2 linked regions of the Homo sapiens genome follow. The protein of the gene in region 1 interacts with the protein of each later gene in a pairwise test. Each region holds a gene or a part of one and is shown on either strand. Other genes may lie near its edges. The genes, in order: LARP4 and PRPF39.

Evidence for each region.
Region 2: the proteins of LARP4 (region 1) and PRPF39 interact in a two-hybrid assay, tested with the Homo sapiens proteins (one large-scale study listed by BioGRID).

The regions. Positions count from the first base shown.
Region 1 is NC_000012.12:50,428,135-50,431,960, forward strand, and holds part of LARP4 (la-related protein 4), read left to right. Parts: intron 1-782; coding exon of another isoform or gene 783-800; coding exon 801-956; intron 957-2,360; coding exon 2,361-2,436; intron 2,437-3,826. UniProt on the Homo sapiens protein: RNA binding protein that binds to the poly-A tract of mRNA molecules. Associates with the 40S ribosomal subunit and with polysomes. Plays a role in the regulation of mRNA translation.
Region 2 is NC_000014.9:45,107,914-45,111,739, forward strand, and holds part of PRPF39 (pre-mRNA-processing factor 39), read left to right. Parts: intron 1-501; coding exon 502-609; intron 610-1,702; coding exon 1,703-1,867; intron 1,868-2,180; coding exon 2,181-2,307; intron 2,308-2,635; coding exon 2,636-2,904; intron 2,905-2,961; exon of another isoform or gene 2,962-3,062; intron 3,063-3,826. UniProt on the Homo sapiens protein: Involved in pre-mRNA splicing.

The sequences.
Region 1 (3,826 bases):
ACAGGCGCCTGGCTTTATCTCATGCCTGTAATCCCACACCCGGTTACCACACCCGGCTAATTTTTGTATTTTTAGTAGAGATGGGGTTTCACCATATTGGCCAGGCTGGTCTCGAACTCCTGACCTCAAGTGATCCACCAGCCTCGGCCTCCCAAAGTGCTGGGATTACAGGTGTGAACCACCATGCCTGGCCAGGATATATCCTTTGATTATTTGATTAAGTATATTTATCAATTTTTCTTCCTTTAAACATACTGCATCCAGCATTTATAAATGTTTAACATGTAGTTTGTATATAATTCTCATTTATATCTAACATGAATAGATTGCCACTAATTTCAAGTAGTAGCCGTGTTTTTGGGTCCAGCATGCAACCCATCTATAATAATTATATTTATAAATTAGTTTTTATCTACCATCATTGACTCTGCTATTTACTCACTGTTCGACCTTGGGCAAATAACTTAATTTCTCTATGCTTTTTTCCCTCCATCTGTAAAACAGAAGCAATCTTAATTACAGCACAGGATTTTCTGATAATTAAATGAATAAAGTGCATGGAGTAGTCTGATACATGGATAATGCTATATACGTTTTAGCAATTGTTGATCATTTTAGTTTATCTGTAATTGTCAAAACTTATCTCCCTCGGAATGATAACTCTTGCTTAAAACCATGCGGACATATTTCAAACTGGTAGAAATCCTTAAAATCTTTTTATAGGTGACATACTGCCCAGAGTTCCTGAGAATAGAATTTAAATAATTCCCATTTACTTTCAGTGTCTGTCTTTAATACAGGTAATGCAGAGCTCTCAGAAGATATATGTAAAGAATATGAAGTAATGTATTCTTCATCTTGTGAAACCACAAGAAATACTACAGGCATTGAAGAATCAACTGATGGGATGATTTTAGGACCAGAAGATCTGAGTTACCAAATATATGATGTTTCCGGTAAACTTTATGGTTTTATTGTTAAAATGAGAATTCAGTACAGGACACCCCCCACCCATGGTCTCTTTATACTTGTTCTGATAAACCTATGGCATTATTTTCTTATTTGAAAAGAAGGTTACGTTAATGAAATGTTAGTTGATTGTTACATTGTTTTCAGATAACATGACTTTTGTAATGTTAAGATTGTTTATGAGGGTTCTATTAAAGGAAAGCGTGAAATTAAAGATAACAGAAAAAAAGGCGGGGTGGCTCATGCCTGTAATCCCAGCGCTTTAGGAGGCCCAGGCGGGCAGATCACTTGAGGTCAGGAGTTTGAGACTAGCCTGGCCAACATGGTGAAACACTGTCCTATACTGAAAAAAAAAAATTAGCTGGGCATGGTGGCATGCACCTATAATCCCAAGATCATGCCACTGCACTCCAACCTGGGTGACAGAGTGAAACTGTGTCTGAAAAAAAAATTTTGTGTGTCTATATATAAACAACTGCCTACTTTGAACATAGAGTTGAAGTGATATGGTAAGCAATTGGTGTTTTTTTGTTGTTGTTTTTTTGTTGTTGTTGAGAGGGAGTCTCGCTCTGTTGCCCAGGCCGGAGTGCAGTGGCGTGATCTTGGCTCACTGCAATCTCTGCCTCCTGGGTTCAAGTGATACTCCTGTCTCAGCCTCCCGAGTAGCTGGGATTACAGGCACGCGCCACCACACCTGGCTAATTTTTGTATTTTTAGTAAAGATGGTGTTTCACCATGTTGGCCAGGCTGGTCTCAAACTCCTGACCTCAAGTAATCCACCTGCCTTTGGCCTCCCAAAGTGCTGGGATTACAGGCGTGAGCCACCATGCCCGGCCTTTAAGTGCTTTTAGTATTGTGCATTGTTAATTTTTTGATAAAGATAACCTTAAACTAATATGAAATGTATCTGATGAAAGAATATCTAGATTGACAGAAATTAGTTAGACTTTGAACTGTCCAAATTATAAAAATAATAAAAAATACAGTTTGGGCCAGGCACAGTGGCTTATGCCTGTGGCCAAGGTAGGAGGATTGCTTGAGCCCAGGAGTTTGAGAACAGTCTGGGCAACATAATGAGAGCCTGTCTCTACAAAAAAATAAAAATAAAAAGTTAGCTGGGTATCATGGCACAAGTTTGTGGTCCTAGCTACTCAAGAAGCTGTGGTGGGAGGATCATTTGAGCCCAGGAGGTTGAGGCTATACTGAGCTGTGATCACACCACTGTACTCTAGCCTGGGCAACAAAGGGAGACCCTGTTTCTCTGAAACAATAGCTTTGTGGTGAATTTTGATTGTAGATACTTTGTGGCTTCTGAGTACAACAGTATGTCAGATTTATCACCTCTACTAACATGCTATTAACTTTTTTTCCCTCTTCTTTTCTACCATCAGGAGAAAGCAATTCAGCAGTTTCTACAGAAGACCTAAAAGAATGTCTGAAGAAACAATTAGAATTCTGTTTTTCACGGTATTGCTGTTTCCCCTTTATTGAATTTTATTAGTAGATGTAAAATACGTGTGAAATAGAGCGCAAGGATGGTGATTATTATTTAACTAATTTTTTTTTTTATTTTCTTGAGACAGAGTCTCATGTTGTCGCTGGGCTGGAGTGCAGTGGTGTGATCTCGGCTCACAGCAGCCTCCGCCTCCAGGGTTCAAGAGATTCTTGTGCCTCAGCCTCCAGAGTAGCTGGGATTACAGGCGTGCAGCCACCATGCCCAGCTAATATTTGTATTTTTAGTAGAGACAGGGTTTCACCATGTTGGCCAGGCCAGTCTCAAACATGCAACCTCATGTGACCTGCCCTCCTCTGCCTTGCAAAGTGTCGGGATTACAGGCGTATGGCACCACACTCGGCCCCTTGTCTAGATTTAAAAGTGTAGGGTCGGGCGCTGTGGCTCATGCCTGTAATCCCAGCACTTTGGGAGGCTTCGGTGGCTGGATCACCTGAAGCTGGGAGTTCGAGACCTGCCTGACCAACATGGAGAAACCCCGTCTCTACTAAAAATACAAAAATTAGCGGGGCATGGTGGTGCGTGCCTGTAATCCCAGCTACTTGGGAGGCTGAGGCAGGAGAATCACTTGAACCCCGGAGGCGAAGGTTGTGGTGAGCTGAGATCGCACCATTGCGCTCCAGCCTGGGCAACAAGAGCGAAACTCCATCTCAAAAAAGAAAAAGTGTAGTCTCCAGTCTGATATGCAGAGGATCTATTCTTAATATAAAGATAATGAAGTTTGCATTGGATGTTTTTTCTATGAACATACTCAATTTTGGAATTGACAAAAAGTTATTTCTTAATGCATGTTTTAATAGTTGATTCTTGTAATGTTAATCATAGAGTCATTTTTGGCAAAATAGTAAGGAGTTGGACAGATAATTTATATTGCCAATGTCTTCTCTTAAATAAGGAATCCTTTCAGGCAAACATTTGGAGAAGTCTTATTTACAGATAAGAATAATGGGCCAGGCGCAGTGGCTCATGCCTGTAATCCTAGCACTTTGGGAGGGCAAGGTGGGCAGATCATGAGGTCAGGGGTTCAAGAACAGGCTTGCCAACATGGTGAAACCTTGTCTCTAATAAAAAATACAAAAATTAGCCAGGTGTGGTGGTGGGCGCCTGTAATCCCAGCTACTCGGGAGGTGGCAGCAGGAGAATCACTTGAACCGGGGAGGTAGAGATTGCAGTGAGCTGAGGTTATTCCTGGGCTCCAGCCTGGGCGGCAAGAGCGAAATTCCACCTCAAAAACAAGGAAACAAAAACATTCATGTAATATTTACTTTAGCCTGTACTTTGGGAGGCCAAAGTAGGTGGATCACCTGAGGTCAGGAGTTCAAGACCAGCCTGGCCAATATGGCA
Region 2 (3,826 bases), on another chromosome or scaffold:
GCAAGACTCCATCTCGGGGGGAAAAAAAGGTCTTTAGTGCAGAAGAAACTGGACCTGTTATCCCTTGACTCCATGAGTGGCACAGTGATCACTTATATAACTGGCCATTTACCCAGTGACTTGTAGCTTGTTTGAAGTTAATTTCTGATTAAGGCAAGTGGGGATTCAGTAGCTTGTATGTATAGATTTAAGGTAGAGAATCTATTTTACTACAAGACACCCCAAAAAAAACTTAGCTTAGAAGGAATATTTTGCCTAGGTTGTGTATCTACTAGCCCAATTTAAGAAAAAAAGAAAAAATATGAAAGTGGTTAATTAGGAAGTTGTGTGATAAGTTTTAGTGTTGTTAATTGGATTTTGCACATAATTGCCAACAGTTAAAAATCTACCACTATTCTAAGACTAAAATATCTGTGAATAATACTTAAATATAAGCAGTGATATTGAAAATTTTCAGTATACAGTTTGTGAGATTTATTTTTTTCCCTTTTTCTTCCCAAGCTAATTACAGAAATAGAAAACATGAGACATAGAATCATTGAGATTCATCAAGAAATGTTTAATTATAATGAGCATGAAGTTAGTAAAAGGTGGACATTTGAAGAAGGTGTAAGTGTTTTTGTTTTGTAATAGTCTTTAAAATACAAAGTAGGAATAATTTATTTTTCTTTCAATTTTGATAGTACTATCTCTGTTGTAACTTTATTTTTGCATATTTAAGCCATAACTTCAGATGTTTGTCTCATTTATTGTAATCATTATCAGTTTTTCCATTTTCCCTGATGAGTTTTAGAATGTTTGAATCCAGATTTACTTGAATTGCAAGATATCTGCTTAATCTGAACAATTTTATTCTAATTGTTCAATTTTTAAAAGTCAACTTCTTGGGGTTATACTTTACATACATTACAATTCACCCATTTTAGATATATAGTAAAATGAGGTAATTTCCCACAGTTTTAATTCTTTGGTTTTTTTTGACTGCTTTACTGAGATATAATTCACATGCCATATAATTCACCCATTTAAAGTATACAGTTCAATAGTTCTTAGTATATTCACAGATATGTACAACCATCACCACAGTCAATTTTAAAACATAATCACCACCTCAAAAAATAACACCTTAACTTTTAGTTGTCACTACCCCTACCTCCTCAGCTGCGACCCTCTACCCCCAGTGCTAAGATACCACCAACTGCTTTTTGTTTCTGTAGATTTCCCTATAATGGCCTTTCATATGAATGGAATCTTAGAATATGGAATCATTTCACAGATATATGTATATACATTGTAGTCATCACAGCAATCAAGATACAGAACTCTTTTAGCACTCCAAAGGTCCCCTTGGCCCCTTTCCAGCCAGAGTTCCCCTCTCCACTCCTAGCACTAGGCAGCCATTGATCTGCTTTCTGTCACTATGGTTGTTCAATTTTAAAATATTCAACAAAGTATAAAATGTTCTGTACATTAAAAAGCATGTAATTGGCAAAATGGCAGAATAGAGAGAAAATGTATTATTTCATTTGTTTGTAAAGCTTAAGGAATTTAAGGGTTAATTTTAAAAGTTTTTTAAATTATGAAATATGATTAAAAATTTTAATCATCAATTATATTTAAAATTATTTGTATTAACACTGTACATGTGCATATTTTGGTGATATTGGTTTACTTTCATTGGCATGTTACAATTTCATTTCAGATTAAAAGACCTTACTTTCATGTGAAACCTTTGGAAAAGGCACAACTAAAAAACTGGAAAGAATACTTAGAATTTGAAATTGAAAATGGGACTCATGAACGAGTTGTGGTTCTCTTTGAAAGATGTGTCATATCATGTGCCCTCTATGAGGAGTTTTGGATTAAGGTAAGAAAATCATGTGCTCTTAAACTTGAATATATTATAAACATTGATCTAGTGACTAACCTTTTTTGTACTTCTGTTGAATGTTGTTCATATAACTATATCTGTTGCATTAGGAGATGGTCTGCTTGCAACCAGATTTGACTGCTGCATATGCCAACCTCGTTGCCTCTCTTCGTCCTTCCTTACAGAAACTAGTCTAGTGGTTCAATAAAGGTGCTGAATGGGTTTAAAAATAGAATTTTATCGTTCTGTCACAAATTTAATGGCTTGTTCAACTGTAAATTATTCAGTATTTCCTCTTTTCTGTATGTAGTATGCCAAGTACATGGAAAACCATAGCATTGAAGGAGTGAGGCATGTCTTCAGCAGAGCTTGTACTATACATCTCCCAAAGAAACCCATGGTGCATATGCTTTGGGCAGCTTTTGAGGAACAGCAGGGTAAGAGTGGAGAAATTCAGTTGACATTTTTGAGATTTTAAGTTATTTCAGGAAACAGTGACAAATTGAGTGGTAAGGGATGGTGTAAAGCAGAGTTTGGCAAACTTTTTCTCTAAAGGGCCAGATAGTAAAAGCCACGTGTTCTGACTTTCAGGCTTTGTAAGCCATTGTAGCCCCGAAACAGCCATAGGCAGTGTGTAAATATGCATGGCTGTTTCCCATTATTAGTTGCTGGATTTAGCCCATGGGTGATTGTTGCCAGTATCTGGTTATAAACGTTATTTTGGTTGTTTAAACCAAAGCATAAACATTTAATTACTGTTTCTAGGTAATATTAATGAAGCCAGGAATATCTTGAAAACATTTGAAGAATGTGTTCTAGGATTGGCAATGGTTCGTTTACGAAGAGTAAGTTTAGAACGACGGCATGGAAATCTGGAAGAAGCTGAACATTTGCTTCAGGATGCCATTAAGAATGCCAAATCAAATAATGAATCTTCATTTTATGCTGTCAAACTAGCCCGGCATCTTTTCAAAATACAGAAAAACCTTCCAAAATCAAGAAAGGTGCTTTTGGAAGCAATCGAAAGAGACAAAGTATGCATTTGTATTTTTAAGAGTATCTTCTATTAAAAAAACCAGTGGTCAGTGTATTTTCACTGTGGCAACTGTGATGAAAGATTTGGTCTGTATGTAATAGATTTTATTACTAAATGAGGACAACAGTCCCTCTAAACTGATGTTGCCATTTAAAAATTTTTTTCAAATTGTTTTGAATTAAAAGTTTTAGACATTAAGATTATTGGGTTAAAATTGTTGTAGACATTGTGATACTTTATATTTTCCCTTTAGAAATTATCAACAAATTTACTGATTACTAAGTAGAACAGAGGACTTGGGAGAATACTTCATAAACAAAAGCATAGGCGTTGCCTATGTTGTAAGCACATTTAGAAGTGAGATGATTTTGCTTCTCCATAGAGTACTTTTTATATTTTTTATATATCAATTGAAAAAGGCAGTGTATAGGTAATAGGTAATTTCTCAAGTTTTAGGATTTTAGTTATTGCCAGGTCTGTTTAAGATACAGATTTATAGCAGTTTGCTTCTAGCTGCAGTTTAAGATGTTTATCTTTTTTTTTTTGAGTCTGTCGCCTAAGCTGGAGTGCAGTGGTGCCATCTTGGCTCACTTCAACCTCTGCCTCCTGGGTTCAAGTGATTCTCCAGCCTCAGCCTCCCGAGTAGCTGGGATTACAGGCATGCATCACCGCGTCCGGCTGATTTTTGTATTTTTAGTAGACACAGTTTACTATGTTGGTCAGGCTGATCTTGAATTCCTGACCTCAGATGATTTGCCTGCCTCGGCCTCCCAAAGTGCTGGGATTACAGGCGTAAGCCACTGCACCTGGGCTTTTTTTTTTTTTTTTTTTTTTTTTTTGAGACAGAGTTTCATTGTCATTGAGGCTGGAGTGCAGTAGCGTGATCTCAGCTCACTGCAGCTTCCACCTCCTGGGTTCAA